Linked DNA regions of Homo sapiens. The protein of the gene in region 4 purifies or fractionates together with the protein of the main gene of each other region. This does not show direct contact. Each region holds a gene or a part of one and is shown on either strand. Other genes may lie near its edges. The genes, in order: ZMYM1, PRMT3, ACVR1C and GTF2IRD2B.

Region 1 (8,450 bases), on a different chromosome or scaffold from region 4:
TTTGATGTTTTTCTTCAGTTTTAGGAAATTGTCCTAAAAAATTGTAGGTATTTTTTGTTTTTGTTTTTTTTCGAGACAGTGTCTCAGTCTGTCACCTAGGTTGGTGTGCAGTGGTGCGATCATAGCTCACTGTAACCTGGAACTCTTTCCTGGGCTCAGGTGATCCTCCAGCCTCAGCCTCCCACATAGCCTGTACTACAGGCATCCACCACCATGCCCAGCTAATTTTTCTAATTTCTTTGTAGAGATGAGGGTCTCACTATGTCACCCAGGCTGGTCTCGAACTCCTGGGCTCAAACTCCTGCCTTGGCTTCCCAGAGTTCTGGGATTATAGGCGTGAGCCACCTTGCCTGGTATTTTCTTTCAAATACTGCTTCTTTTGCATTGTCTATTTTCTCTTATCCTAGAACTGAATAAGAGATCCCACGTGGCACATTATTCTAGATTCTTATTCTAGAACTGAATAGGAATCCCACATGGCACATTATTTCAATTTTCCATCCTTTTATCTCTGTGCATCAGTGTACCTTCTAGCTTGTCTTCTTCACTAATTTGATATTCATCGATTGAATTCTTAACTTCCTCACTGTGTTTTCCAATTCTAGATTTTCCATTTAACTTTTTTTTTTTTTTTTGATGGATGCCAGGTCACTACAGAACTTCTCCATCTTTCCTCTGTTTTCTCAAACATAACCAAGTCCTTGCCTGACAAGAACAATATCTGAGTCACCTGTGGGTTTGTTTCTATTGCCATTTTTTTCCAGTCAGTTTTGGGATTTTAAAAATTCCTCTTAGTCCATAAATTATTACTGGATTCTGGAAATTTTGGATGAACATTATTAGCATCCGGATGTACTTCCTTCAAAGCAGACTAAGGTTGCCATTAGGCACGTGGATAGTAGTAGCAGATGACATTGATCCTGTTGAGGGTTGATTATAGGTCTTGTTAAGACTGGTCTATTTCAGTTTGTCCTTTCTTCTTGGAAGTGGTCTCTTTTCCTCCTGGGGCATAGCCATTACTCCTAGGGCAAGGCCCTCCTTGAGTCTCAACCCGAAATCCAGGTCTTTACCAAAACCCCTCTATCTTGCTGGTCTTAAATTTCAACTCTCAACTCAGCATAGCTGCTATAATCTTATTAGCTCTTTGACGTTTAACTGCTGTGTTCTGTTAAGTTTTTGAAGTCTCACTCTGTAAATGTGCAGTTTAGGAGTCCGCCAATGACTTGGAGGAGGGGAGATTTCTATGCATATTATTTTTCTGTAGTTCCCTCCTCTCCCAGATTGTGCCTCTTGAGTTCCAGCTACTTTAGAATCCAGTACTTCTAACTGTCTCCTGCTGTTTTCTGCTTGGGTTTCCACTATTTTGTCATGGAAAGTCCCCTTACCAGTAAAGTCTGTTAAATTTTGTAATTAATTCCAGTGAAAGGATTTAGTATGCTAAAGGCTACTCTGTTATGCCTGGATTTATCCGTTTTTTGTTTTGTTTTGGTTTGGTTTTTTTTTGGAGACAGAGTCTCGCTCTGTCGCCCAGGCTGGAGTGCAGTGGCACTGTCTCAGCTCACTGCAAGCTCCGCCTCCTGGGTTCACGCCCTTCTCCTGCCTCAGCCTCCGAAGTAGCTGGGACTACAGGTGCCCACTACCACGCCTGGCTAATTTTTTGTATTTTTAGTAGAGACAGGGTTTCACCGTGTTAGCCAGGATGATCTCGATCTCCTGACCTTGTGATCCACCCGCCTCGGCCTCCTAAAGTGCTGGGATTACAGGCGTGAGCCACCGCGCCCGGCCCCCATATTATTTTTACTTCATGCTAGTCTGTTAAAATCTGGAGCTCAGTTGGTTTCCAAACTGCATAGGATCTGATTAGGCAGAAATGACTTTGGCAGGAAGGAAAGCAGTATGAGGACAAGTAAAGTGAGGAGGTTAAGGTGCAGCTGATTCTTTGCCTTGACATCTGTCTCCCTTTCCCTCTGGCCCAAAGAGGAGGATAGTGTTTTCTCCTGTGGTTGTTGTAGATCTCCCTTTGGCTGCAGCTGTCCTTTCCTGACCCTGAAACCACCTCCATGACTACATTCCAGCTTCAGGGACAATAGCCTCCTTCCTTGAACAGTCATTCCTAGAGCTCTCTTGGGCCTGCCCTTTCTTGCCTTTGGTGTGGCACATGCCAGCCACCTAGCTCTAATAGGGAATTATTGTTGTTAAATCAGTATTCTGTACCCCTCATTCCCAGCCTAGTTTTGAAATGTACTTGTGGTTGGAGTGCTAGGTTCACACTGGCCCCTAGCATTTGTGGGGTCCTTGCTAAGAGTATGAATGGAAGCCCACATACTCTGTGTCTAAATATTTAAAAGTTATAAATTAAGCTAACACATCGTGGAATAAAATGAGTTCCATCCTCCTGCCGTGACAAATACACCTTTGTAATGACCAAATAGAAAAACACGTGTAAAGCTGTGGTTTTCAGGACTGAAAGTAAGCAAATTTTCAATGATGACAGAATTCAATTTTATGTATTACGTTTAAACATTGTATTTGGGTTACTCATGGTAAATTGTTATCACAGAAAATATTGAAGATTTGAATTTCATTATATAAATCACTGTCATTCATAATGTGGCTTTTTAAAATCATTTCTTCAAGTCATATTTATATTCATACAGAATTTTAAGGTTTTTTCCCAAAATTTTCAATATATACAGAATTTTAAGGTTTTTTCCCAAAATTTTCAATATTGGGTTATTAGTTTATTTTATTTATTTATTCTGAGATGGAATCTTACTCTGTCACACAGGCTGGAGTGTGGTGGCGCAATCATATCTCACTGCAACCTCTGCCTCCCAGGTTCAGGTGATCCTCCTGCCTCAGCCTCCTGAGTAGCTGGGACTACAGTCTGGGCTATTTATAAAAAGCAGAAAATGACTGTTTGTTGCTAAATTTGTTCAACTCTGTCTCCAATCAAGATTGTAACTTAATCTGTAGCAGTAAAAAAAATAGTCTCTATATAAATTAGTTTTGAGATTATATGTCTGTGAATCTTATTCATCGTCATGCAGTTTCCTTTCATTATTGTAACTGCCTTATATTTCATTGAAATCTCATGCAATTTTTTTTTCAATTAAAAAATTCTTTTTTTTTCTTTTGAGATGCAGTTTCGCACTGTCACCCAGGCTTGAGCGACAGTGAGCTTGATCTCAGCTCACTACATCCTCCACCTCCTGGGTTTAAGCAATTCTCTGCCTCAGCCTCCCGAGTAGCAGGGATTACAGGCGCCCACCACCACGCTTGGCTAATTTTTTTTGTATTTTTAGTAGAAACAGGGTTTCACCATCTTGGCCAGGCTGATTTTGAACTCCTGACCCTGTGATCCACCCACCTCAGCCTCCCAAAGTGCTGGGATTACAGGCATGAGCCACCGCACCCAGCCTTTTTTTTTTTTTTTTTTTTTTTTTTGAGATGGAGTCTTGCTCTGTCGTACCCAGGCTGGAGTGCAGTGGCACGATCTCCACTCACAGCAGCCTCCATCTCCCAGGTCAAGAGATTCTCCTGTCTCAGCCTCCCAAGAGCTGGAACTACAGGTGTGTGCCACCACACCTGACTAATTTTTTGAATTTTGAGTAGAGATGGGGTTTTACCATGTTGGCCAGGCTAGTCTCGAACTCCTGACTTCAGGTAATCTGCCTGCCTCAGGCTCCCAAAGTGCTGGGATTACAGAGGTGAGCCACTGTGCCCGCCCAAAAATTCATTTTTTAACAGTAGTTTGAACCATCAGGGTTATATAAATACTATTGTACTAATTTTCCAGGAGGAATCTGGATGATATCCCCTGGAGGTCTATATGTGTATCTGGAAATAACTCTTGAAACTTGCATTTTCTTTTTTTTTTTTGAGATGGAGTTTCGCTCTTCTTGCCCAGGCTGGAGTGCAATGGCGCAGTCTCAGTTCACTGCAACCTCTGCCTCCTGGGTGCAAGTGATTCTCTTGCCTCAGCCTCCCAAATAACTGGGATTACAGGCATGCCCCACCACGCTCGGCTAATTTTTTGTATTTTTAGTAGAGACAGGGTTTCTCCATGTTGGTCAGGCTGGTCTCGAACTCCCAACCTCAGGTGATCAGCCCGCGTTGGCCTCCCAAAGTTCTGGGATTACAGGCGTGAGCCACCACGCCTGGCCTCGAAACTTGCAGTTTCTTTGTGATCTCGTGTTTTACTTTAAGAATGAATATGGGCCGAGGGCAGTGGCTCATGCCTGTAATCCCAGCACTTTGGGAGGCTGAGGCCGGTGGATCATGAGGTCAGTAGTTCAAGACCAGCCTGGCCAAGATGGTGAAACCCGATCTCTACTAAAAATACAAAACTTAGCCAGGCATGCTGGCTGGTGCCTATAATCCCAGCTACTCAGGAGGCTGAGGCAGATAATTGGTTGAACCTGGGAGGCGGAGGTTGCAGTGAGCTGAGATTATGTCACTGCACTCCAGCCTGGGTGACAGAGAGAGATTCCATCTCAAGAAAAAAAAATGAATGTGAATTTTGTTGTCTGCTCTTATCATATTTCTCTCTTTGGTTTAAATTAAAATATTTTATGGCTGGGCGCGGTGGCTCACACCTGTAATCCCAACACTTTGGGTGGCCGAGGCAGGCGGATCACAAGGTCAGGTGATCGAGACCATCCTGGCCAACATGGTGAAAACCCGTCTCTACTAAAAATACAAAAATTAGCTGAGCTTGGTAGCACGTGCCTGTAATCCCAGCTACACAGGATGCTCAGGCAGGAGAATCGCTTGAACCCGGGAGGTGGAGGTTGCAGTGAGCCGTGATCGTACCGCTGCACTCCAGCATGGGCAACAGAGTGAGACTCCATCTCAAAAATGTGTTTATGTGTATATATATATATATATATATGTGTGTGTGTGTGTGTGTGTGTGTGTGTGTGTGTGTGTGTGTGTGTATGTACATATATGTATATATATTTTATATTACTACCAAGTAGTATTGCCCAGCAGGAAGATGTGCAACATTCATCCTTTGACTATTAATACCTGTACTCTTTCATACTATGATTTAGCCCTAGTTTGGAAAGATGAGTAGGGCTATATTAAAAGAAAGTCTGTAGGACTTATTTTACTCTAATGTGCATCTTGTTGGAAAAGGAAGTAATGGATCTGTCACTAATACATGTTTTGCTCTTCTTATAGCCAAACAAATGTTGCATAGCATTTTCCCTTGCCTCAGAAATTTTCAGGATGCTTTCCTTTTTTTTTTTTTTTTTTGTTTTTGAGACAGAGTCTCACACTCTTGCCTGAGCTGGAGTGCAATGGCATGATCTCGGCTCACTGCAACCTCTGCCTCCCAGATTCAAGCAATTCTACTGTCTCAGCCTTCCGAGTAGCTGGGATTACAGGCGCCCACCACCACGCCCGGCTAATTTTTTGTATTTTTTAGTGGAGATGGGGTTTCACTGTGTTGGCCAGGCTGGTCTTGAACTCCCGACCTCCTCATCCACCCACCTCAGCCTCCCAGAGCGCAGGGATTTCAGGCATGAGCCACTGCGCCCAGCCTCCACTATTTTTATGTTTGTATGGTGACACATTTGAAGGAGTTGCAAGATGCCAAAGCTCATAGGTACTTTGTTTTGTTTTATCTTACGAATAACAATAATTGTACCTCACGTAAACCTCATTGGCTGTGATACCGCCACTGCACAAAACTCGGTGCTTTGTTTTTAATTGATGTTTAAGACTTGCATGGCATGTGTACTTTCAGGTGAAGGGAATCTACCTAATGACAAATAGTTAATTTTTAGTGAGTTTTGCTTTACTGTTTGTGTATAATGCTCAAATGGGCTGGACAGAGGCTGTATGAGCTATTTATTGCACTTGACTCTCAGGCCTTATTTAACTTTCTGCATTGGGATAGGAACTTTCAACAAAAGCTGAGCTAAAGATGGAAATGAGGGAAGGTGGTTGAGCCCCAATCACAGAAATAAAAAATAATGGCAGAATTACTTGGGTCTTTCATGTACTAACCCAGAATAAAACCATAGTCCTGGAATTACTCCTGTAAGAGGTTTTTTGTTATTTTTTTCTTTTTTTGAGCCCATTATTCTAAGTGATCCTGTAACAACTTCAACTTCTCCACATTTGTGTTAGTTATCATCTGCCCTCCATAATGATTAGTTGTAAGGCTTTTTTTTTTTTTTTTTTTTTTTTTGAGATGGAGTCTTGTTCTGTCACCCAGACTGGAGTGCAGTGGCATGATCTTGGTTCACTGCAAGGTCTGCCTCCCAGGTTCACGCCATTCTCCTGCCTCAGCCTCCCGAGTAGCTGGGACTACAGGTGCCCGATATAAGGCTCTTTTTTTTTTTTTTTTGAGACAGAGTCTCGCTCTGTCGCCCAGGCTGGAGTGTAGTGGCGCGATCTCGGCTCACTGCAAGCTCCGCCTCCCGGGCTCATGCCATTCTCCTGCCTCAGCCTCCCAGAGTAGCTGGGACTACAGACACCTGCCACCACGCCCGGCTAATTTTTTTGTATTTTTAGTAGAGATGGGGTTTCACCATGTTAGCCAGGATGGCCTCGATCTCCTGACCTCGTGATCCACCCACCTCGGCCTCCCCAAGTGCTGGGATTACAGGCGTGAGCCACCGAGCCTGGCCTATAAGGCTCTTTTTTAAGGATCTAGGAGACAGGAAGACTTGCACTCTGAAGCCAAGCTAGGGTGGCAGGAAGGGAAAGGGTTCCAAAGGATTTAGAATCAGAGGTAACAGCTACCAGATAAGTGGAAAGTAGGCCTCAGTCAAGGAAAAAGGAGAAAAGAAGGAACCAATCTGTCTTTGAAAAAGAGACCTTGCTGGGAGGGATAGCATTAGAAGCTATACCTAATATAGGTGACAGGTTGATGGGTGCAGCAAACCACCATGGCATGTGTATACCTATATAACAAAACTGCACGTTCTGCACATACACCCCAGAACTTTAATGAAAAAAGAAAAAGAGACCTTGCTTTCGTAGTTCCTCAAAAGTTGTAAGATTGACCAAAAAGGAATCTATTGATTTGGATAGTGAGGAGAAGCAGGCAGGCATGTGTGATGGGAAAATAGACTTAAGACTTATTTGACTGGGTGTGGTGGCTCACACCTGTAATCCCAGCACTTTGGGAGGCCGAGGTGGGCGGATCACCTGAGGTTGGGAGTTCGAGACCAGCCTGACCAACATGGAGAAACCCTGTCTCTACTAAAAATACAAAATTAGCCAGGCGTGATGGCACATGCCTGTAATCCCAGCTACTCGGGAGGCTGAGGCAGGAGAATCACTTGAACTTGGGAGGCTGTGGTTGCAGTGAGCTGAGATCGCGCCATTGCACTCCATCCTGGGCAACGAGAGCAAAACTCTTGTCTCAAAAAAAAAAAGACTTAATTAAAAGGTAGATTGATCTAATTTCATAATTAGATTTAGGGAGAAGAAGAATAATTCCAGGTTAATCCTAGATTTCTGGCATGGGAAATTAGGTATATGACACTGCTATTTACCAAAAAAAAGGAATATCTGTAAAACAGGTTTGTGGGGGTAATAAAAGAATATAGTTTTACTGAGGCAAGAGGATTGCTTGAGACCAGAGTTCAAATCCCTTGAGTTTGAGGGACCTGTGGAACATTCAAGTGGAGATATTTATTTATTTATTTATTTATTTTGAGACGGAGTCTCCCAGGCTGGAGTGCAGTGGCGCGATCTCGGCTCACTGCAAGCTCCGTCTCCCGGGTTCACACCATTCTCCTGCCTCAGCCTCCCAGTAGCTGGGTCTACAGGTGCCTGCCACCACGCCTGGCTAATCTTTTTTGTATTTTTAGTAGAGACGGGGTTTCACCGTGTTAGCCAGGATGATCTTGATCTCCTGACCTCATGATCCACCCGCCTCAGCCTCCCAAAGTGCTGGGATTACAGGCGTGAGCCACTGCCCCGGCCAAGTGGAGATATTTAATAGGCAATTAGGTATATGGGCCACAGCTCAGGAATGTTGGGGAAAAACAGCCCATAGGTGATAGTTGAATCTGAGGTTGTGATCATAGGCTGGGAGCAGATGGACACCTGTCGTTGAAGCACTTTGGGAGGCTGAGGTGAGAGGATCACTTGAGCCCAGGAGTTCGAGATCAGTCTGGGCAACATAGGGAAACACCTTCTCTACAAAAAAAAAAAAAAATTACCTGGGCACTGTGGCACATGCCTGTGGTCCCAGCTACGTGGGAGACTAAGGTGGGAGAATTGCTTGATCCCAGGAGGGTGAGGCTGCAGTGAACTGAGATAGTGCCACTGCCTGAGTGACAGAGCGAGATCTTGTCTCAAAAAAAAAAAAAAAAAAAAAAGAGAAAAAGACTTGGTTTTTGTTTGTTTTGTTTTGAGATGGAGTCTCGCTCTGTCTCCCAGGCTGGAGTGCAATGGCACAATCTTGGCTGACTGCAACCTCT
Region 2 (8,450 bases), on a different chromosome or scaffold from region 4:
ATAATTAAATTTTTACAAAGGGGCAGTGTTGATTAATGGGGAAAGGGTGATCTTTTGAAATGGTGCTAGAACAAGTAAATATTTGTTTGAGAAAATCATTCTTCACACCATATCCAAAAACTAACATACATAAAAACTAAGTGGATCATAGGTACAAATCTAAAAGCTTAGACTGTAAAACTTCTGGAAGAAATAATATTTGAGACTTTGGAGTGGTTTATGAAACTAAGATAGTGGCAACATTCGAACACATTTTATGTAAGTAACACCGTAAAGTTAGTTTTAAACTTCTCACTGGACAGTCAATATCTTCAGGATAAAATACAAACTCCTATGTCCCTTTGCAGTCTGACTCTGGTTTTTCATCATTTCCAACCCCATCCTTTCACAACCCCAGGTAAGCTCATGTACTCCAGTTGTACAGATTGCTCATTTTTAAGCTAACTTTTATTTTTCTTGCTTTTGTCCAAGATGTTTTTCTACCTAGAAGGTTGTTTTGACCTCTTTCACTTGATAAATTCCAATTTACCCTTCATGACATAGCTAATTTCTGTAAAATTTAAATGTCTTCAGAGCTAATTGTTCCCTTTCTTGATTCCCCAGATAAATTCATATACACATTTGTTACAACATCTTAGTGTACTGGAGTTCTAATAGAAGTTCAACATCTTAGTGTGCCTCCCTCATTCCTTCTTGATGTGATGTAGTATTTGACATACTGTGCTGAATAAATGAATAAGTACAATAATATATATTGTCATTGAAATCCAATTTTCTCCATCACCTTGGGTAACACTATGCCAAGGTCATCTAGTGTCCATATTTGGATGGCCAATTTTGCCAACTCTGGTGTTACCAGAAATTTCATCATACTATTGCACTTGAGCAGGTTAATATTCAAACTTACCTTGGTGTGGCTGAAAAAGAGTTCTCTATAGTTATATTGAAACTAAAAGTAGCTTTTGACCCAATGTACTATAAGATTTTTAGATAAAAATAAATGAAGCTATGAGTCTAGTTTGGAAAAATTACTGTATGTAAAGCTTATTTTAGTGTCCAGAAGGTAATATGACAAGATAAGTAAAATATTGTAAATGGAACTATAGAGTTATTTTGCCTAGATGAGGACACTTAAAGTTTGAATTCAGGGTGGGTTTTCCCTTTACAATTCATGTACAGTTTTATTGTACAAACTTTTATTGTAAGTAAATATGGCAGTACTTTAAAATTCAAATCTTTTTAATGTGATTTGGCTTTGAAAATATAAAATCAGGCTATTTCTCTTTATTTATCCATACAGTACATAGTAAGCTTTTATATGATAGATAATCTGGGATTTTTTTCTTTCATTTTTAAACTCTAAGCTTTGACAACAATTAATAATGATTTGTTGTGTTTTTCTTTCCTTTTTCTGGGGAAATGAAGTTTCATTGCTCCGGAAGAAATTAATTCTAAAAAATACACTGTAACAATTAAAATGAAGTCAATTTTGTTCTTGAACTACGGCACTGCTTTGTGATATACTAACAGCCGTCTGCTGATGATAAAAAACAAGTCCATGCGGCTCAGCTCCAGAGTGTTCCTTCCAGCTCTCACCACAGTGCACACACTTAACAACATCAGTCATTTTATATCTATTTGACACTGATTAATTACTCTGATTCATTCTGGTATTATAGCCACTGCCTTGGCACTTTAGTTAGGTCTGAACAATTGAAGGGAGATCAGCAGTGTGAATTATGTATTTATTACTGTGACCCTTCATGCTACTTAATTAACTTAAATGATTGTGTGTGCACCCTCATCTTTGAAATATGATTATGGAAAAGATTTACCTGTATTTCATTTTAAGAAATGAAAATCATGGTTATCAGCATCAGCTTATATATATGACATTATGTTAATTTTTCAGCTGCTATATTGATGCTTAGCATTTTTTCTTTTGTGAAAAATTAACAAATATCCATTACTAATTCATTTTGACTGGGGTTTTTTATTTCTAAACTGAGGAATGCATAGAACTCTTATAGGTACATCCTTTGATCCTGAAATGAAGATGATAACCAGATTTATAAGCACTATGGAACATTTCTATTTTGACTTGCACTAAGGATTGAATAGGACTTCTATAAACAAGACAGCTTACATATTTTTAACACTCAAAAGGCAATGTAAATGAAAGAGCAGCAACCATCAGAACAAATGTACAAAAATGAAATATTTACTAGCAATACCTCATATGCTTCAATGAGAAAAGAAGTAAGGTAAATGCACCAGATTTTTTAGATGGTAGTTAAATAAATAGTACTTATCTCCTCTGATTTGAAATACAAATCAGAGCAATCACGTTTTGGTTGTTGTTTTTCATTTACTCTTTTGTTGATGAAGATGGCAGGAATGTAACACTGGAATATATTTCATACCTTTTATGAAGGAATTATACTTCTGATAATCCATCCTAAAGAATCAATTCAAAATTCAGACTTAAAAAATACTTGTTACACAAAGACACTGCTTTAATTTGCTTTTCTTTCTTTAAACTATCTTGCTTTATAGAATTTTTTTTCATTTTTTATAGTCACATCTGTCAACCTTTTGCTTTTGGTGTCTGGCTTTGGTTTCATCCTTTAAAAGATTATATTACTACTTTTGTACAATGTATTGAATCCTTTCCTCAGTGACTTAAAATGCTCCACTTACTATGTACTGAGTCTTCATAATTGATCTTATTTCTCTCATTTGTCTGTGTTTATTCCTAGGCACCACATTTTTAAACAAATAATTTACATATAATCAAAATTCACACATTTTGATTGTACAGCTCATTGAGTTTTGAAAATTACATATACCACTGTGGAAATATAGATTATTTCCATCACTCCAAAAAGTTTCTTCTGCAATTCCCTGTATGGTCAGTCCCCAACCGTGATTCCCAGACCAAGACAGTCACTGATATGCTTTGTCATTATATGTTAGTATTACCTTTTTAGAATTTTTATCAATGGAATTATACAGCATGTACTCTAGCTTTCTTGGCATTTTTTTTTTTTGAGATTCTTCTATCATTAGGTTGTTCCTTTTTATTGCCAAGTAATATTCCTTTGGCTATGCCACAGTTTACTTAGGTATTCACCTGCTGCTAGACTTTTGTATTGCTTTCAGTTAGGGGCCATTAAGAATAAAGTTGCTATGAATATTCATGTAAAAGTCTTGGTGCAGACAGATGTTTTCATTTCTCTTGGGTAAGTACCTAGAAGTGGAATTACTGGGTCTTATGGTAAGTGTATATTTAACTTTATAAGAAACTGGCAAATTTTTTAAAAATGACTATGCTATCTAACATCCCTAGGGCTAACACCATTGTGAATTCAGTTGTTCCACATCATTTTTAACACTTATAAAAAAGATGCAGTATTTTAAGCCGTTTTGAGTATGTAGTTATAGCTGTGCTTGTAGTTTTCATTTGCCTGATGTGATGTTGGGCATTGTTTCATATGTGTATTGGCCATTTTTATATCTTCTTGTGAGATTTCTGCTCAGATATTTTGCTTGATTTCAAATTGGGTGGTCATCTAATTGAGTTAAATTTAAAAGTTAATAATAGTTCATCTTTTCCCAAATGTATATTCACTTGCTCCATCATCATTTCTTAAAAAGACTATCCTTTTCCGATTTAATCGCCTTGGCTCCCTTGTCAAAAATTAATTGACCATATGCATATAGATCTACTTCTGAGCTCTCATTTTCCCCCAGGGATCTGTATGTCTGTCCTTGTGCCTTTAAGACAGTCTTTATAAGATTGAAAAAGAACAAAATGGCAAGATTTACACAAACAGTTGTTTTGGCTATTCTAGGTCCTTTATATTGCCATATAAATTTTAAAATCAGCTCATTAATTTCTGGCCTAAGAAAGCCTGTTAGGATTTTGACTGGGATTTTGTTAAATCAATAGATTAGGGAAAATTGACATCTTAACAACATTGAGTCTTTCACTCACGAGAGAGTGGGTCTCTCCATTTATGTGGACCATCTTTAAAGTTGTTTTGTAGTTTATGTAAGTCAGACATATATTGTTACATTTATCTCAAGTATTGTATGTGTGTGTGTGTGTGTGTGAGAGAGAGAGAGAGAGAGAGAGAGAGAGAGAGAGAGAGCGAGAGCGACTGAGACTCGGTCTGTCGCCCAGGCTGGAGTGCAGTGGCATGATCTCTGCTTACTGCAACTGCCACCTCCTGGGTTCAGGCCATCCTTGTGCCTCAGCCTCCCAAGTAACTGAGACTACAGGTGTGCACCACATGCCTGGCTAATTTTTGTGTTTTTAGTAGAGACAGAGTTTTGCCAGGTTGGCCAGGCTGGTCTCGAATTCCTTGTCTCAAGTGATCCGCCCACCTTGGCCTCCCAAGGTGCTGGTATTACAGGCATGAGCCACCACACCCAGCCTTTATGCTTTTTTGAAGCTGTTGTTTGTAGTATTATATAAATTCTTCATTGCTAGTACGTAGAAATAGAATTTTTATACCTTGATCCTAAATCATAAGACCTTGCTTAAACTTCAATAAATAGTTCTAGTAGCCTTCTTTGCATATAGCTTCAGGATTTTCTATGTATAAAACCAGGTAGTATGCAAATGAAAACTTTAATTCCCCCTCCCCCAGTCTGTATCCTTTTTCCCTCCACACTTTAATGTCCTGACTAGGACATCTAATAGAATACTTACTTTATGTTGGGTCTCTGGAGGTCATTTTGTTATTTTTGAATCTCAAGTGTCCATTATCTGTCTTTTCATATGTGAACTACTTTATACCAGCAACTAAATTAAGTAATTTGTATAAGACATACTGCTTGTAAGTAAAAAGGAACTAACAAGCCACTGTGTTGTAAAAATCAAGTTTGTTGATTCAGTGTTGGCAATTCAATAACAGTAAGTTAAACCCAATAACCAAGTTGGCAATTACTATTCTCTGTCATGTATTTACAAAAACATTGTCAGTTTATCATAATGTGGCTGTTCGTTCCCAGTTTTGGTGTCAATAAATAACTTAAATAGAAGTTTTTAAATGTTGATTTAAAAAGAAGCAAATAAAATAGCCAAAATAGAAAAGTCAAAATAGGAAAATCTTAAATGTGTTCAATATACTAATGATCTTTTATTTCTTCCTTAGGTTAATGCCTTAGATAAGAAAACGTGTATCATTGTTCATTAGTTATTATAGAATAATAGTTACATCAACTTACATATCAATTGTGTTTATAAACAAGTAAATATTTTTACCAAAAAAAAAAAACAAAACCCACGGGGCGGTAAAATTTAGGTCTATTTCTTATTCATTATAGTATATTTAAAGCTATAATCATCATTTTTTTAGATAGAGATAGGGAAGCACCAGAGTATAGTTGAGGAACTTGGGTTCTGGAATCAAACTGCCTTGCTGAAAATCCTAGTTCTTTCACTAGCTGGCAGATGACCTTGGGCAAATTACTTACCTTTTCTGAACTTCATCTGTGAGTAAGGAAAATGCGCTTACCTCATAGCAATATTTTGTGACCATTAAGTGAGATAAATCATGTAAAGACCTTAGAGTAGAGCCTAGCACAAAGTAAGTGTTGAATAAATATAAGCATAAATTATCTAATGATTAACCTGAACTCCATAAAGTTTGTAGAACTATCTGACTGGTAATCTTTATTATGTCCACTATTGGTGAACATGTCATATGAGATAGTTTTATATCATTTTCTTAATATAGAGGAATAGGTCAGATATAAAAGCTAAAGCCAAATATACACATTAACATATATACGTACACAAAAATTGTTATATTTTGTTGAATGGATTGCACCTTGGGCCACATTATTTCTTCTATTATTTAACTCCTTAATTATGTGTTAAACTGTGAGTCTCACCTTTTTTGCAAAGATGTAGAGAAGGTATCAGTAATGGAATCTTTATATTCTGAAAATAAATATAACAGGTGGTTATGTTTTACTTGTGTTATTTCACTACCATCTTGAAAAGCATTCAGATAATTTTCCTTGAATATGGGGAATTTGTATTTTTTTAAATACGATATTCATTCAGTACTTCAATAGTTTTATGTAGATTTCCTTGGTCATTATATGGAGCCTCATTGTGTCCATGCAGATGCTAAAGCTATTCCTGACACTGTTTGGTGTTATCTTAATATTATTTAAGCAAAGAATGGTGATCAACTACAACTTAGCAATTTGTTACTTTTTAAACAGCTCTTTAAAATAAATGAAAAATTAAATGAGAAGTATTTATAATTAGAAAAGTACATAGATAAAAATTTGGAACCTACAGAATTTAGGAAATCAGCCTTTGCACAGGTAAGTAATTTTTGTGTGTTCACTGTTTCACATGGGTACATTGTTTCCCTTTTACAGCACCAGTGCATCAATGGCCAATGGCTTTGTCATGTGCCTCTACATTTTCCCAGCTATAATTTTCAGTTCCTCAAAATGCCATTCCTGAAGGTTCTGTGTATGTGTTTTCCTTAAATACCATTACATGTACATCCCTTAAGCCTGGTTCTCCATGACTTCAGCCCTGGCATTGGGTAATTCATTAATTCTTGTGAAACCTTGCCTTTAACTGCCTTCCAACCATCCCCAGTGCTCACCTCCAGCACACTTTAGACACATGCCTATTGTGTAATTGTTAGTATAGCTTTTTTCTTCACCCTGATCACAAACTCTTTGAGGGCAGGGACCATATCTTTTTTCTAGATGCCCAGAACCCACCATAGGGCCTCATATTTAGAAGTTCAGTAAAATGCTTCCATTGACCCTTTATGACCACAATAGTTTTACTCACTTTCACAAGGATTTGACACTGTGGTATGTAGTTAGTTCTCGCTTCATTCAAAAATTAATGAAACAGGGCTGGGCGCAGTGGCTTACGCCTGTAATCCCAGCACTTTGGGAGGCTGAGGTAGGTGAGCGCATCACCTGAGGTCAGGAGTTCTAGACCAGCCTGGCCAAAATGGCAAAACCTTGTCTCTACTAAAAATACAAAATTAGCAGGTCATGGTGGCGCATGCCTGTAATCCCAGCTACTTGGGAGGCTGAGGCAGGAGAAATCACTTGAACACGGGAGGCAGAGGTTGCAGTCAACTGGGATTGTACCACTGCACTCTAGCCTGGGCAACAGAGAGAGACTGTCTTAAAAAAAAAATTAATGAAACATAATGCTGCTCTAAAAAATGAATATTGGCTGGGCACAATGGCTCATTCCTGTATTCCCAGCACTTTGGGAGGCTGAGGCGGGTGGATCACCTGAGGTCAGGAGTTCGAGACCAGCCTGGCCAACATGGTGAAACCCCATCTCTACTAAAAATAAAAAATTAGCTGGGCATGGTGGCATGCGCCTGTAGTCCCAGCTATTCGGGAAGCTGAGGCAGGAAAATCTCTTGAACCCAGGAGGCGGAGGTTGCAGTGAGCCAAGCTTGCACCAGTGCACTCCAGCCTGGGAGAATGCAGTGAGCTGAGATCACACCACCGCACTCCAGCCTGGGTGACAGAGTGAGACTCCATCTTAAAAAAAAAAAAAAAAAAAAAGAATATTAACCTTAAATAAAGTTTAAAAAGTGGGAAAACATCACAATAAAAAGAAGTGCTAGTTATACATTGTTTACTTTTCTGCTACACTGTATTCCTTGAATTCTTAACAATTTTTGCCTTTGTTTTACAGGTGAAGCCTTGAAAGGAAAGGTCACAGTTCACAAGAATAAGAAAGATCCACGTTCTCTCACCGTGACCCTCACGTTGAATAATTCAACTCAAACTTATGGTCTCCAGTGAAACAGCCATAAAAGCACACTACCTTGTAGTTTTTAATGTGGGGGTAGAGTGGGTCAGCAGGAGGGAGCTGGTTTTATGTGAGCAGATGGATGGATGATGGACCCTTTCCTAATGAGCCTCCTCAATAAGAGAGAAGTTCTCATTGTGGGAATCTGACATAGTTCAGCTGAGGAAGAGAATCAGCTGATCCTCATGGTCTGCCACGTAATCATTTTCTTAGACGTTTGCTCCACCAGATTTAACCAAATGTAACTCCCACATTGAGTTTATCTATATTGAAAATCATTTACATTGGCCTATATTTGGAAGAGAGATAGTCTTTTGTTTTTAATAAGTTTCTTACTATAAATTTTAAACAAATTGGTTAGTTATTTGGATATTTTATTAAACTAGTAACACAGGTACTACACATTTTATTATGGACTCCTCTGAGGAGGAGTTTTTAATTGTATTTGCTAGAAAATCAGGATGTAATAAAGATTTGTATAAAAAAACTAAAATATGGAAAAGAGCTTCAGCCTTCATATACAAATCATATATGCAGACAGCCTAGTTGATTATCTAGCATACTTAGGGTTCTCATTTTGTAGTTTCTTCCCTCTTTGTGACTATTCCTTAGCCTTATAGAT
Region 3 (8,450 bases), on a different chromosome or scaffold from region 4:
TAATACTCTTTAATATATTTTGGCTCTGTTGTAAAACAATCTGGTTTTTTTAAGCTGTAGTAATCCGGATTACCAGTTTCTGAATTAACATCTCTTGGATACGTATGCATTAAAAAAAATTTATATTTGTTGTTTTTAATTATTTTTTAATTGACACATAATTGTATATATTTATGGGATACAATGTGATGTTTTGATACATGTATACAGTGTCCAATGATCACATCAGGAGAATTAGCATATCCACCACCTCAAACATTTATCATTTCTTTATGTTGAGAACATTCAAAATCTGGTCTTCTAGCTATTTGAACATGTCCATATCCTGATGAGTTAGATTTTTTTTCTAGTCCCGTTTTTGATCATAGAGTCTTTATTTCAGTCAATTATCAAGTTGCATAAAAAAAGGTATAAGGTGCTTAATCAATATGCAGAGATGTAGCATCCATCCCTGTCTTTTTATTAACCATGAGATAACAACGACAAAATAGATTGGGAGAAAATGTGTGTTTCACTTTCAAAATGGGAGCATCCTAATGATTTTCTTGAAGTGAAAAGTTTAATGAAAAAGTGGATTGATCTAATTTGGGATGTTTAAGTCATTGGCAAATTTAAATTGTTTTAAAAAAATAATAATAAGCCAAGCTCTTGAGTCATACCTAGTGAATCACCCATGAATTCTTGAGATTAATTTAAAACAGCTCCAAAGAAACAGTATCTTTGCATGCCTACTGTCTAAAAGACAGAAGAGAACAACAGAAAGTAGAAGCTATTCTAGAGGAAAAAAAGTGAAGAATCAGGACACAGCAGAGCCGTGTTAGCCTGGCTGGCCAATCAGAGCAGTGAATTCAAGGGGCACATCATGAGGCAATGGTAGCCCCTGAGAAGGAGCAAAGTGTTGGCTTCTATGTAAATAAGGTCTTCCTTGTCTGTTTCATACTCCCACCCACCTCCTCCATCCTTTTACTTTTTACTGGATCCCTAAGTAGGAGGAGTAGTGATTTGTATTGTTCGGGTTTCAGGGAACCAAGTGGCCCACATGCTTTAGGGATCCAGCTTTCAAAGAACAAGAAAAACAAGGGGCTCATGGTCATGGCTATGTCTTCCTTCTTTTCCACAGCAAGTGTGGGAAGGGTACAACCTGCTTCCTTGGTAGAAGAGATCCCGCCACCTCTTTCCACAGACTTTCTACTTTTTCCCTCACCTAGCAGTCGCCCCTGAAATTATTGCCTGGAACTCCTGCCAGTTTCCATGAGACCTGGACTAATGCGAGGTATTGCAAATAGAGGTCCCTTGCTCCACAGCCTCTATGGCTTCATTTTGCCAGGACTGAATAGCCTTTCAATGGTTTCCTGGAGTTAGAATCCAGGGTTCGGGTTTATCACAGCTCCTCTACCTTTATCCTTGGGCTATTTAGTTGTTGAAAAGAAGAGCGTATTCAAGTTTGCCATGCTACTGGGGACAAAAGCTCCAGGTAATAAGAAAAAGTTACTTTGCCTTGTTTCACCTCCTTTTTCTAGATGTCACCTCTTAACTGAAGATGAGACTCAGCAGCTAGTGTTTGGGTATTCCTAGGTCCCATTAGCAAAAGAGTCATTTGTGTATCATTTATGAACATATCTCAATTTCTTAAACATACTATCCCAATTTCTTCAACAAGGTAAGGATAAATCTTGAGATTTTGACTATTGACTGTGAAAAATATAAGACTTAGAAGACCAAAGCAATGGAAAACCAAGAAGATACTATAAGGTATAACTAATGACGTTCTTCACAGAAATAGAAAAAAAAATCCTAAAATTTATATGGAACCACAAGAGACCCAGAATAGCCAAAGCTATCCTAAGGAAAAAAGGACAAAACTGGAAGAATCCCATTATCTGACTTCAAATTATACTGCAGAGCTACAGTAACCAAAACAGCATGGTACTGACATAAAAACAGACACATAGACCAATGCAACAGAATAAAGAACCCAGAAACAAATCCACACACCTACAGTGAACTCATCTTTAACACAGGTGCCAAGAACATACACTGGGGAAAGGATAGTCTCTTCAATAAATGGTCCTGGGAAAACTGGATATCCATATGCAGAAGAATGTAACTAGACCCCTATCTCTTACTATATACAAAAACAGTCAAATCAAAATGAATTAAACACCTCAAACTATGAAACTACTACAAGAAAACATTGGGGAAAATCTCCAGGACATCAGTTTGTGCAAAGATTTCCTGAGTAATAGCCCACCAGCACAGATGCCCAAAGCAAACATGGACAAATGGGATCACATCAAGTTAAAAAGATTCTGCATGGTAAAGGATACAATCAACAAAGTGAAAAGACAATCCACAGAATGAGAGAAAATATTTGCAAACTACCCCTCTCACAAGGGATTAATATCCAGAATATATAAGGAGCTAAAATAACACTGTAGGGAAAAAAAATCTAATAATCCAATAAAAAAATTGACAAAAGATTTGAATAGCCTTTTCCCAAAAGATGACATACAAATGGCAAACAGCACATGAAAAGGTGCTCAACATCACTGATCACCAAAGAAATGCAAATAAAAACTACAATGATATCATCTCACCCCATTTAAAATGGCTTACATTCCGAAGACAGGCAATAATGAATGCTGGCAAGGATGTGGAAAAAAGCGAACATTTGTACACTGTTGGTAGGATTGTAAATTAGTACAACCACTAAGAAGAACCCTTTGGAGGTTCCTCAAAAAATTAAAACTTGAGCTACCATATGATCCAGCAATCCCACTGATGGATATAACCCAAAAGAAAGAAAATTAGTATATGGAAGAGATCTGCACTTCCATGTTTGTTGTAGCCCTATTTACAATAGCTAAGATTAGGAAGCAACCTAAGTGTCCATCAACAGACGAATGGATAACAAAAATCTGGTATATATACACAATGGAGTACTATTCAGCCATAAAAAAGAATGAGATCCAGTCATTTGCAACAACATGGATGGAAGTGGAGATCATTATGTTAACTGAAATAAGCCAGGAACAGAAAGACAAACATGACATGTTCTCACTTATTTGTGGGATCTAAAAATCAAACTCATGGTCAGAGAGAATAGAAAGCTGGTTAGCAGAGGCTGGGAAGGGTAGTAGGGGGTTGGTGGGGGAGGTGGGGATGGTTAATGGGTACAAAAATATGGAAAGAATGAATAGGACCTACCATTTGATAGCACAATAGGGTGACTATAGTCAGTAATAATTACATATTTTAAAATAAAGAATGTAATTGGATTGTTTGTAACTCAAAGGATAAAATGCTTGAGGGGATGGATACCCCATTTTCCATGATGTGCTTATTTCACACTGCATGCCTGTATCAAAACATCTCATGTACCCCATACATATATATATATCTACTATGCACCCACAAAAATTTTTTTGAATAATTTAAATTTTTTTAATGATAAGGCATAATACATAGCACACTCTTTATGCTTAGAATTTTTCCTTTGTTTTGTTCTGTTTACTAATTATACTTGAAAATTAATTCTCTTGTTCTATTATTTATTAAAATAAACTCTTTATATATATGTCAACATAATCTGAGCTTTTTAATGATCCATGCCTGCAGTTGTCCACTTATAGGACACTACAGATCTCAAATTGAAGATAACATTAATCATTTGGTAGGTCAAGACTAAGCTAGAGCAGGAACTAAACAGCTTCAGGATGATATTTATGTATCCAAGCCCCTTCCCCAAAATCTTGTCATTGCTCTCTTAGGAACATGCTCTAAAACTTCAAACTATATCAGAATAACAGGTCCCACAGGGCTCAGCAGCCTCCTTATTCCTGCCTCTATCCAATCTCCTCTCCTCTTAACCTTATTTACGGCAAGAGATGCAAGTAGTGCCAAGAAAAGTACAACAAAGTGGGTCTTGGCTACTGCCTGAAAGCATTTCCCCAAAAGAGAAACATGAAAGTGTATTCAAAAGGAAACTACTCCAAAATCACATCTGAAAATAACCACTTCCAAAATACAGCGAACTTGGGAAAAACCAACTGCTTTCATGCAACAATCAAGGGAATCAAGAGTTATTCTTGTTTTTTTCACCCATATTTTCATGTCTAGATACTCATGTAGGATTGGAGAAAACTAGGTATCCTTTCAGGTTCACACAGAAGAGAGATATCCTGTGCAAAGAGTTGGGAGTGACACATTGGGAGATGCACATGAAGACAGTAACGGAGCTAGAACAGGCGAGGGTTTTAGAGCTGAGGACTAGAAAATAGGTCTTCACTTCTCTTTTTAATAAAAGAGCCAGAAATACATGCATCAGGAATGGTTTATCTCACAACAGGACTTCTTTTATGTTGGTTTGCAAGATAAAAGTACAGAACACCCAGTTAAATTGGAATTAAACAGCAATTAATTTTTAATATACTTGTGTTCCATGTCATACTTGTGACACACTTATACTAAAGAGGTATTCATTGTTTATCTCAAATTCAATCTAACAAGGTATTCTCTGCCTTATTTGCTAAGTCTGTGGCTCTATTTAATGCGTCTTTGAAAAGTTATCAGTAAATGCCCTTGGCTCTCAATTTTTTATCATCAGTCCATATTTATCCCCTGAACTTCAGACCCAGAAAACCAATTGCTTACTTAACATCTCCATTTCAGCATCTGAGAGGCATTTTGAACTCAACATATTCAAAACTGAGCTCCTGTGATCTGTCAGCACCAACCCTTCTCTCCCCAGACCAGCTTTTCCTGCAGTCTGCCCCACCCCAATTAAGGGTCCATTCTTCCATTGCTTGGGTCAAAAATGTAGCATCATCCTTAGCTACTCACTTTCACACCTCAAAGTCCTTTATTTTTTGTATGAGTTTAGCAATTCAGAGGAAATCTCTAAGCATAGTTTCTCCTGGGCCAGAGATGTCTTCCTTGGAACCAGGGAGCCTCTTGCCACATCTGTGTCAATCAACCAATAAATGACTATGCTTAAAGAAGGGCAAAGATGGCAACATCTTTTGCATTTATAAACTCAGTCAGCCCTGAGCTTTCACTTTCACTTCCAGCAACACTGTGGAAAACTCTTAGTGGAAACTGCTAACTATTGTTTGCAGTGGGGGTGAGGGGGTGCAGAGGGGTGCAGGGGGGTGGGGGGAAGAATTTCATTACTTGAAACCCCCACTCTCACCCTGGTTATTAAGGAAATATTTATTCCATTTTTGGAGTAACAACATAGGGCTTTCTGGACTCTTAATAATCCTTTCTGGACCAGAGGACAAAGGAGTTTCAAGAAATTAGAAGAGAATGCACAATATGTAAATCTATGTAACATCCAAATCACAGCTTCAAAGTAGAGAACTCCAGGACATTTTCTGCCACTTCTTTTTTGGGTACACATGGTGAATATTGTGAAGCCATGTCAGGTCTCTCTTATCAAACATCAAGGCATCCAGAACCTACATAACCAGAGCAACTCAGAGGAGCCTGAGTTTTTCGTTGCTCTTGTTTTTAGAGACGGTGCCTCACTGTGTCACCCAGGCTGGAGTGCAGTGGTGTGATCATGGCTCACTGCAATCTTGAACTCCTGGTCTCAAGCAATTCTGTCTCAGCCTCCCAAGTAGCTAGGACTACAGGTGTGTGCCACCAGAACTGGCTAATTGTTTTTAAATTTTTTGTAGAGATGGTGTCTCACTATGTTGCCTGAGCTGGTCTTGAACTTGCTGGCCTCAAGCAATCCTCACACCTCGGCCTCCCAAAGTACTGGGATTAGAGGCGTGAGCCACTGCACCCAGCCAGCCTGATTTTTTTAATTCCAGTCCAGACCAATAAACAGTTTTTCTAAGTCTCTACCAGCTGTTATCTTCTGAGATTCTCAAAAAGGAGCAATGGACACCCCTAAGGTGACAACAATGTGGGGAATGAGCAGCCAAAGTAAAAAAGGTTTACTGGTTTATCATGTGTTCAGATATTTAAAGTCGTAGGCCTGCTCTGCAGATCCAGATGAAAGGTGGTGCCTTCTGTCACACAGTTTCACTGACTATGTCATTACATCAAGAACAACTTCTCATATAACATTCCAACAACAGCAAGTACATGTCATAAATGGCCAATATGATTAACAGTATAATTTGTAAAAGTGACCAGGTAAAAATACAGTTGGCTAACCATGTCATAAAACCAATTGAAAAAGTGAAAAGCAAAACAAAACTACCTTGAATCTTTCTACTAAATAGCCAGAGTTTTATATAAAGTTAAGAATAAATACTATAAGTAGCAATATACATTGTTAACGTGGGACACAGAGGGGTAAAAACTTCTTAAGGAGATTTGAAAATGATTGCACTTGACATAGAAAAGTTTTTCATAAAAGTTCAGCTTCAATAAATACATCTCTACTATATTATTCCATATCATGCATTTTTCTTAGACTTCAAATTTTAAGTGAGCGACTTTGAATGGATTATCTTTTTTTTATTTTTTGCATATTTCAATGTCAAAAGTTTCCATGCCTTTTCAAGAACATGAGGCATGTTGCTATGCTCAAGGTCTCTGAAATTTTCTAAAGATTCTGGGTATACAACAAAATATACCCTTGAAGCTACATTTTAAAAAAATTGAATCTGTTTTGTAGAAATGTGTGCAGCCAAGTTATCAGCTCCTCCAAATAAAAAGAGTTGTACAGACAGCCTCCAGAGGCAGTTTCACCCCATCAAAACTGTGATACCTTGAAGACTTTTTTTTGTAAACTCTATTAAATTGTCAAGAGCACTTTCAGTATCCCAAGTTAGCAGAGTTTTCACCCATTTTTTAAAGACTTTCCCATAGTTGGTTTTCTCCCACTTATAAATTTATTAACTCTAAATGCAAATATTTCACTTTATCCCATCATCTTTCCGACAGTCTTGGGCTGTTTTCCTAAAAGATAACTGGAATGTTTTAATCCTCAGATTTTGTCAATTAATCCTTTTCAATAATCAAATTTATATTTGAATATTGTATTTAGTGATTCTCTCAGGCCATCTGAAACACTGAAATCTGTACATGACAGCAATCATATCATTCAAATCATTCTCTTGCACATGTCACTAAGAGGAAAACGACCCACCATGAATATAGCTATTAATGTCAAACAGATTGTCATCTGGGAAAACAAAATGCATCAAAATCAGCTTCGGACAAAACACAGCTCTATGGGAAAACACCAGATTTTTATGTGCAAATGTCTTCAATGTCTGATAGAAATTTTTAAAGAATGAGTTAGCAAAGAATCTGCTCCTCCTCTGCATAATCCAGGACAATGTAATGAAAATAGTTTTCGAGGTAAAGGGCTTTTAGTCACAGCATATTATGATTTTACCAAAGATGCATTTGCCCCACTTTCTAGTAAACATTATAAAGAAACGTCTGGCTTCTAGATTGGGTAGAGGGCTCTATTTAGCCTATCAAGGCACAGACCTGTTATAAACTCTGGGGCGCTTGCCAGAATTTTTTTCCCCAGGAACTCTGAGTAAAGATCGTACCTCGAAAGCAATGTGCGTTGCAAACCACACAGATTTAAGCTCCCACTCTCGCCTCCATAGCTTGGCATCTGCGGCTTTTGGGGTATTCCCCGCCTCCTAAAACTCAGACTAAATCACCACCTCCCACCACCACCATGCCACCATCCTTGAGCAGCTCTCAGGGGCTTAGCACAGAGCGCGTCCGACGCATACCTGCAGCCCTCCAGGTCCCTGCAGGGTGAACCCAGCTCCCAGCCATGCGCGCACCCACAAACGCTCTCCTATTTTCTCCGCTGCAAACTGCCCACAAATTAGTCACCCACCTCACCCCTACTACTTATTCCCCCACGTCCCTGCTGCCTTTTCCCTCTTCCGGGCGGCTTCGTCCCCAACACACCTGTCTACCCCTACGGCTGCCAGACGTCAGGTGCCCACGCTGCACCCTATCCCGCGCCCCCTCAATCCGACTGGCGCTTCCCTGTCCGCCCCGAAGGTCAGTTTGCTCGGAGCACCCCCTGTCCCCCACCCCCGTGCTCACCCGCAGACCTCCTCCCAGCTCCCACCCTCGCGGGCGTCGGGAGAGAAACCAGCACCGTACCTGGCGAGAGCTCGGCGGCCGCTGCGAGCAGCAGGAGAGCCTGGCGGAGCGCTGAGCAGAGCGCCCGGGTCATCGCCACCAGGCGGCCGCGCCGGGGCTGCGAGGCCCCAGAGCAGAGCGAGGCAGCCGGGGCAGCACGGCCCGCTTTGAAGTTCCCGGGCCGCGGGAGGGGAGCGCGGCACCGACACCCTTTTGAAGTGCGCGGTTGGCTCTAGTCAGTGTGGGCGCCCCCCTCCCCGGCCGCCCCCATCCCACGCCCCCTGCGGCTGGCGGTGCGCGGCGCTCCTGCCACTGGCCCCGCAGCCGGGCGGGGAGCGGGTGGTGGGGCGGGCGGCAGAGCCCGCCCCTGC
Region 4 (7,814 bases):
GGGGTTTTGCCATGTTGGCCAGGCTGGTCTTGAACTTCTGACCTCAAGGGATCTGCCCGCCTCCACCTTCCAAAGTGCTGGGATTACGGGCATGAGCCACCACGCATGGCTGATGTGGCACACTATTCAAGTGTGCTTTGTGGTGGGGGCTCCCCTGAGGCCACCCGCACAGCTGCACTCAGGATCACAGTACCGATCTCCTCTGTGTTAGTTGGTAAATAGTGCCTGCCTGGCCATGCAGTCCCACCCTAGTACCCTCCGACCGTGGCTTGACCTCCCTACAGTGCTGAAGCAAAAGGGGTTCCACCTGGCACAGCAGAGGCCCCTAGAACCCTTCCAGTGCTGAGACTAGCATCTGTTCTTTTTTTTTTCTTTTTTTTTTTTTTTGAGACAGAGTCTCGCTCTCTCACCCAGGCTGGAGTGCAGTGGCAAGATCTCGGCTCACTGCAACCTCCGCCTCCCGGGTTCAAGCGATTCTCTGCCTCAGCCTTCCGATTAGCTGGGATTACAGGTGCGTGCCGCCACATCCAGCTACTTTTTGTATTTTTTAGTAGAGACAGGGTTTAGCCATGTTGGCCAGGCTGGTCTCAAACTCGTGACCTCAAGTGATCCACCCGCCTTGGTCTCCCAAACTGCTGGGATTACAGATGTAAGCCACTGCACCTGGCTCAGCATCTGTTCTGATTGAGCAATGCCCAGGCACTCTGCTTCTGAAATATTCTCTTTTTTTTCCCCTTCAACTTTTATTTTAAGTTCCAGGGTCCATGTGCAGGATGTGCAGGTTTGTTACACAGGTAAACGTGTGCCATGGTGGTTTGCTGCACCTATCAACCCATCACCTAGGTATTAAGCCCAGCATGCATTAGCTATTCTTCCTGATGCTCTCCCTCCCCCCGCCCCCACCCTGTTAAATATTCTTAATGTCTTCCCCGGAGCCCTTGCAAGTGAGTCAGTATCCTGTCAAGTAGAATACGGAGAGGTGTTCTCACGAGCATGAGTCACCAGGGAACCTCCTAATGTAACATTTGAAAACCAAAGTAGGCTGGGCGCGGTGACTCACACCTGTAATCCCAGCACTTTGGGAGGCCGAGGCGGGCGGATCATGAGGTCAGGAGATGGAGACCCTTCTGTACAACGTGGTGAAACTCCGTCTCTACTAGAAATACAAAAATTAGCCGGGCATGGTGGCGCGTGCCTATAATCCCAGCTACTCGGGAGGCTGAGGCAGGAAAATCACTTGAACCAGGGAGTCGGGGGTTGCAGTGAGCTGAGATCGTGCCACTGCACTCCAGTTTGGTGACAGAGCAAGACTCTGTCTCAAAAAAAAAAAAAAAAAGAAAAGAAAACCAAAGTATCCTATTAAAATGCTCCATTTTTATTCCCAAACGCATCTGATTGCTAAATGATTTTTTGATCTTTTATAATATCTTTATTTATTTATTGTATTATTATTGGGGTTTTTTAGAGACAAGGTCTCACTCTGTCACCCAGGCTGGAGTGCAGTGGCATGATCATAGCTCACTGCAGCCTGGAACTCCTGCCCTCAGGTGATTCTCCCACCTTCACCTCCCGAGTAACTGGGACAGCACTGCCATGCCCAGATAATTTTTTTTTTTTTTTTTTTTTTGTAGAGACAGGGTCTCACTATGTTTCCCAGGCTGGCCTTGAGCTTCTGGCTTCAAGCGATCCTCCTGCCTCAGCCTCCCAAAGTGCTGGGATTATAGGCATGAGCCGCTGTACATGGCCTACATTTTCTTAAGGTGCACTTTTATGTGTGTGTACTCTGGAAATACCTTGATTACCTGCAGGGTGGCCAGGTTCTTTAAATCTAAAACACTAGTCCCTGTACACTCGAACACACTTATACGAATGAGTTTTGTGTGGTTCTGTGGCCGTCACCCTTGTCATTTGAGACTCACAGTAGGTAAAAATCATATGCCTTTCTGTGCTCATTCCCATCTCTGTTATTACAAAGTTTTCTTGGGAATCAAATGAGAAAATATATTAAAATGCTCACACCTATAATCCCAGGACTTTTGGAGGCCAAGGCAAGAGGATTGCTTGAGGCCAGGAGTTTGAGACCAGCCTGGGCAACATAGCAAGACCCCATCTCTACAAAAAATTTAAAAATTAGCTGGAAACAGTGGCTCACACCTGTAGCCCCAGCTACTTGGCAGGCTAAAGCAGGAGGATCACTTAAACTCAGGAGTTTGAGACAGCAGAGAACCATAATTGCAATACTACACTCCAGCCTGGGTGACAGAACAAGACCCTGTCTCTAAAAAGAAAATGCAAACATATTATCAAATAATTCCTGTTTAAACTGGACATAACAAGCACAGCTACATGCTGAACCTCATCAAAGGTGTCTTTTGTTTGGCTCATGTACTTTTGAAAATAAGGATGAGGCCTGGCACGGTGGCTCCTGTAATCCCAGCACTTTGGGAGGCCAAGGCGGGTGGATCGCTTGAGCCTGGGGTTTCAGACCAGCCTGGGCAACAAGGTAAGACTCCAGCTCTACAAAAAAAAGAAAAAGAAAAAGAAAAAAAGAAAAGAAAGAAAGAAAGAAAAGATAGCTCGGTGTGGTGCATGCCTGTAGTCCCAGCAACTGGGAGCTGAAGTGGGAGGATCACCTGAGCCCAGGGAGTTCCAGGCTGCAATGAGCCATTATCACCACAAACCAGGCACTCTTTCATAAAGGTCAATCTTCAGGTTTTCTTTAGAAAACCTGAAGATCTGGCTGGGTGCAGTGGCTCATGCCTGTAATCCCAGCACTTTGGGAGGCTGAGGTGGGCGGATCACCTGAGGTCAGGAGTTCGAGACCAGCCTGGACAACATGGTGAAATCTCATCTCTACTAAAAATACAAAAATTAGCTGGGCGTGGTGGCAGGCACCTGTCATAACAGCTACTCAGGAGGCTGAGGCAGAAGAATCGCTTGAACCCAGGAGGCAGAAGTTGCAGTGAGCCGAGATTGCGCCACTGCACTGCAGCCTGGGCGACAGAGCAAAACTCCGTCTCAAAAACAACGACAACAAAAATTCAGTCTTCAGGTTTTCTTTAGAAAACTTGAAGATCTGGCCACAGCTGGCGTCCTGGCAGCGGTTTGCTGGAGTTGAGGGTCAGCCGTCCCTCTGCAGGGTGGGTCACCCTCCTGTTAACCACGCCCTGCCCCGCCCCGCTTCCTCCCTCTCGTGCGTCATCAAGCATTTGCTGTTGTTTTCCTCATAGTAGTGATAAGAGAAAAGTGAAATATCTTTGTCTCCCTGTCTCTGTCAAAAGTGGGAAAACGCAAGATAGACCAGGAGGGCCGTGTGTTTCAAGAAAAGTGGGAGAGAGCGTATTTCTTCGTGGAAGTACAGAATATTCCAACATGTCTCATATGCAAACAAAGCATGTCTGTGTCCAAAGAATATAACCTAAGACGCCACTATCAAACCAATCACAGCAAGCATTATGACCAGTATACGGAAAGAATGCGTGACGAGAAGCTTCACGAGCTGAAAAAAGGGCTCAGGAAGTATCTCTTAGGCTCGTCAGACACCGAGTGTCCCGAGCAAAAACAAGTGTTTGCAAACCCAAGTCCAACCCAGAAATCCCCCGTGCAGCCTGTAGAGGACCTAGCTGGGAACTTATGGGAGAAGTTACGTGAAAAAATCAGGTCTTTTGTGGCATATTCTATCGCAATCGATGAGATCACGGATATAAATAATACCACCCAGTTGGCCATATTCATCCGTGGTGTCGATGAGAATTTCGATGTGTCCGAAGAACTTCTGGACACGGTGCCCATGACGGGTACAAAATCTGGCAACGAGATCTTTTTGCGTGTTGAGAAGAGCCTGAAAAAGTTCTGTATCAACTGGTCGAGATTAGTAAGCGTGGCCTCCACTGGCACCCCAGCGATGGTGGATGCCAATAACGGGCTTGTCACAAAACTGAAGTCCAGGGTGGCGACGTTCTGCAAGGGTGCGGAACTGAAGTCCATCTGTTGTATAATTCATCCGGAATCACTCTGTGCTCAGAAGTTGAAGATGGACCACGTCATGGACGTGGTAGTGAAGTCCGTGAACTGGATATGCTCCCGGGGACTGAACCACAGCGAGTTCACAACCTTGCTCTATGAGCTGGACAGCCAGTATGGTAGCCTCCTGTACTACACGGAGATTAAGTGGCTCAGTCGCGGGCTCGTGCTAAAGAGATTTTTCGAATCCTTGGAAGAAATCGACTCCTTCATGTCATCCAGAGGGAAACCCCTGCCTCAACTGAGCTCCATAGATTGGATCCGAGACCTGGCCTTCTTGGTTGACATGACGATGCATCTGAACGCTTTGAACATCTCTCTCCAAGGACACTCCCAAATCGTCACGCAGATGTATGACCTGATCCGGGCGTTCCTAGCAAAACTGTGCCTCTGGGAGACTCATTTGACGAGGAATAATCTGGCCCACTTTCCCACCCTGAAATTGGTTTCCAGAAATGAAAGCGATGGCCTGAACTACATTCCCAAAATCGCGGAACTCAAGACCGAATTCCAGAAAAGGCTGTCTGATTTCAAACTCTACGAAAGCGAACTGACTCTGTTCAGCTCCCCGTTCTCCACGAAGATCGACAGTGTGCACGAGGAGCTCCAGATGGAGGTTATCGACCTGCAATGCAACACGGTCCTGAAGACGAAATACGACAAGGTGGGAATACCAGAATTCTACAAGTACCTCTGGGGTAGCTACCCGAAATACAAGCACCATTGCGCAAAGATTCTTTCCATGTTCGGGAGCACCTACATCTGCGAACAGCTGTTCTCCATTATGAAACTGAGCAAAACAAAATACTGCTCCCAGTTAAAGGATTCCCAGTGGGATTCTGTACTCCACATCGCAACGTGATGGAGAGAAAACTCCTGGCAGGGCCCTATGGTGGGAAAGGCTGGAGTCTTCTAGTCCCAAGGGATTGGGAGATGACAAAATGAATTTTTTTTTTCTTTTTTGAGATGGAGTCTTGCTCTGTCGCCCAGGTTGGAGTGCAGTGGCGTGATCTCGGCTTACTGCAACTTCCAGCTCCTGGGTTCGAACGATTCTCCTGCCTCAGCCTCCCGAGCAGCTGGGACTACAGGCATGCGCCACCATGCCCGGCTAATTTTTGTATTAGTAGAGATGAGGTTTCACCATGTTGGCCAGGCTGGTCTCCAACTCCTGACCTCAGGTGATCCACCTGCCTCGACCTCACAAAGTGCTGGGATTACAGGCATGAACCACTGTGCCCAGCTGACAAAATGAGTTCTTAAACTTTTTTTTTTTTTCAGTTTTTTTTCCACTTTGAATCAGAAATATAATCTGCAGTATCATACTTGTTTATATTACATTGTATGCCTCACTATTCATTAAAAATCAAGAAAGTTTTATTGTATTATTGGTAGTTGACTTTTCTTATGCCTGGCTTGTTTCATTCATTCACATTACCTGCCTGCCACCCTGATAGGCACTGTAGTTGGCATCTTGAAGTTTAAATCAATCAACAGAGAAATAGGGAGAGAGACGTGTATATTTGCTTTTTGGTTTTGGGGGTTCTTTTTTTGAGACGGAGTCTCACTCTGTTACCCAGGCTGGAGTGCAATGGGGCGATCTGGGCTCACTGCAGCCTCTGCCTCCCGGGTTCAAGTGATTCCCCTGCCTCAGCCTCCCGAGTAGCCGGGGTTACAGGTGCCCACCACCACGCCCGGCTCATTTTTGTATTTTTAGTAAAGATAGGGTTTCACCATGTTGGCCAGGCTGGTCACAAACTCCTGACCTCAAGTGATCTGCCGGCCTTGGCCTCCCAAAGTGCTGGAATTACAGGCGTGAGCCACTGCGCCCAGCCTGAGACATGTATATTTGTGGAGGAGTATATATGAACACACATTTATCCCCCGTTCCCGTCCGCGTGGTATCCCACATGGTCTAATATGTTTCCAAGTTTCAGGAGAAATAGTTGAAAACATACTGACATACAATAATCCTATGTTATCTGTCTCTGCCTTCACCTGGAACCAGAAAGGTCAGGTTTAAAATGGAAAAACCCAGAGCCAGAAAGGTCAGGTTTAAAATGGAAAACCCCAGAGCAAATAACGTAGACTTTGTCTATAAAAGTTAGACAAAGTAAGTTAAGGTTTAGAGGGGTTTTTTTGTTTGCTTTTTACTATGAATAGTTACCGAAAAGTTGTGGCCAAGCATGTGGCTCACACCTGTAATCCCAGCACTTTGGGAGGCCAAGGTGGGTGGATCACTTGAGGTCAGGAATTCGAGACCAGCCTGGGTAACATGGTGAAACCCTGTCTCTACTAAAAACACAAAAATTTGCCGGGTATGGTGGCACGTGCCTGTAATCCCAGCTACTCAGGAGGCTGAGGCAGGAGAATCACTTGAACCCAGGAGACAGAGGTTGCAGTGAGCCGAGATTGTGCCATTGCACTCCAGCCTGGGCGACAGAGTGAGACTTTGTCTCAAAAAAAAAAAAAGAAAAGTTGCAAAAATAAAAATAGTATGGAAAATACTCACATGCCCTTTAGCCAGACTCTCAATTGTTAACATTTCACCCTTGTTTCATTATTGGATCACTTTGTCTCCCTACCCCCTTCCCTCCTTCTCCCTCTCACTCATATGTGTGTATGTGTATCTATAATCAGTACCTATGGTAAGTGTGTATAAGCAAATGTCTATGAGTATCTATGATATGTGTATAAATGGATGTGCATTTTTTTCCTGGACCGTTCAAGGGAAAGTTACGTATATCATTTACCCCTAAATACTTCAGTGAGTATTTTCAGAGAACAGGGATATTCTCTTACACAATAACGTTTCCTTTACCAACTTCAGTAAACTGAACGTTGTTGCAATTATTTTATCCAGTTTACTGTTCATACTCTAGTTTTCTCTGTTGACCCAATAATATCTTTCCCTTTTTTATTTTTGGAAACAAGGAAATCGGCTCGCTCTGTCACCCAGGCTGGAGTGCAGTGGTGCGACCTTGGCTTACTGCAACCTCTGCTTCCTGGGTTCAAGTGATCCTCCCACCTCAGCCTTCCAAGTAGCTGGGACTACAGGTGCATGCTACCATGCCCAGCTAATTTTTGTGGAGTTTTTTTTTTTTTTTTTTTGTAGAGACAGGGTCTCCCTTTGTTGCCCAGGCTGGTCTCAAACTTCCAGGCTCAAGCGATCTACTCGCCTCAGCTTCCCAAAGTGATATCTTTCCCTTTATAGCATTTTTCTCCTGGCAGGTTGTCATTTGAAGGTGTGTGTGTGTGTAATCTCTATTAGTCACTGGAATTAGTGACACAAAATTGTGAATACTTTCCAGATTGGGGGAATTCACGCGACCAGCGTGGAGGAAGGCTGTGGATCTCCACCTAATGACCCACTCAGGAAGCAATGGAGAAAAGGACTTTGATAAAAATGACAGGGGGTGCAGGAGGGAGAGAGCAACCCCCAGGCCAGGAGCCCAGTTGGAGCCCAGGTGCCTATCCTTAGACACAGGGAAATGACCCCACTCCAGGCAGTTCCTGTCGTTGACTTCAGGTACAGCTGGCTCTGGCAAGCTCAGCGCTCTTTTGGAGAAGGAATCCCAGATAGGCTGGTTTATAATGGGAGTTGGAGGGGAGTCCAGGTCTTGGTGGAAGTGAGCACTCGTTCACACCACATATCAGAGGTGTGGCCGAGCAGCAGGACCAGAGCAGCCCCCTTTCATAGACGGGAAGCTGAAGCTCAGAGTGGCTAAGTGGCTCGCTCCAGGTCACGCAGCCATTATAGGAGTTGTCAGGATTCAAACCAGGGTCCATGTGAC

The links.
Region 1: the proteins of GTF2IRD2B (region 4) and ZMYM1 purify together in Homo sapiens (affinity purification with mass spectrometry; one large-scale study listed by BioGRID and IntAct). This does not show direct contact.
Region 2: the proteins of GTF2IRD2B (region 4) and PRMT3 purify together in Homo sapiens (affinity purification with mass spectrometry; one large-scale study listed by BioGRID and IntAct). This does not show direct contact.
Region 3: the proteins of GTF2IRD2B (region 4) and ACVR1C purify together in Homo sapiens (affinity purification with mass spectrometry; one large-scale study listed by BioGRID and IntAct). This does not show direct contact.

Annotation. Positions count from the first base shown.
Region 1 is NC_000001.11:35,083,562-35,092,011, forward strand, and holds part of ZMYM1 (zinc finger MYM-type protein 1), read left to right. Parts: intron 1-5,187; exon of another isoform or gene 5,188-5,598; coding exon of another isoform or gene 5,599-5,614; intron 5,615-8,450.
Region 2 is NC_000011.10:20,500,593-20,509,042, forward strand, and holds part of PRMT3 (protein arginine N-methyltransferase 3), read left to right. Parts: intron 1-7,711; coding exon 7,712-7,821; 3' UTR 7,822-8,450. UniProt on the Homo sapiens protein: Protein-arginine N-methyltransferase that catalyzes both the monomethylation and asymmetric dimethylation of the guanidino nitrogens of arginine residues in target proteins, and therefore falls into the group of type I methyltransferases.
Region 3 is NC_000002.12:157,620,472-157,628,921, forward strand, and holds the start of ACVR1C (activin receptor type-1C isoform 1 precursor), read right to left. Parts: upstream 8,394-8,450; 5' UTR 8,174-8,393; coding exon 8,101-8,173; intron 1-8,100. UniProt on the Homo sapiens protein: Serine/threonine protein kinase which forms a receptor complex on ligand binding. The receptor complex consists of 2 type II and 2 type I transmembrane serine/threonine kinases.
Region 4 is NC_000007.14:75,144,413-75,152,226, forward strand, and holds the end of GTF2IRD2B (general transcription factor II-I repeat domain-containing protein 2B), read left to right. Parts: intron 1-3,281; coding exon 3,282-4,885; 3' UTR 4,886-5,405; downstream 5,406-7,814.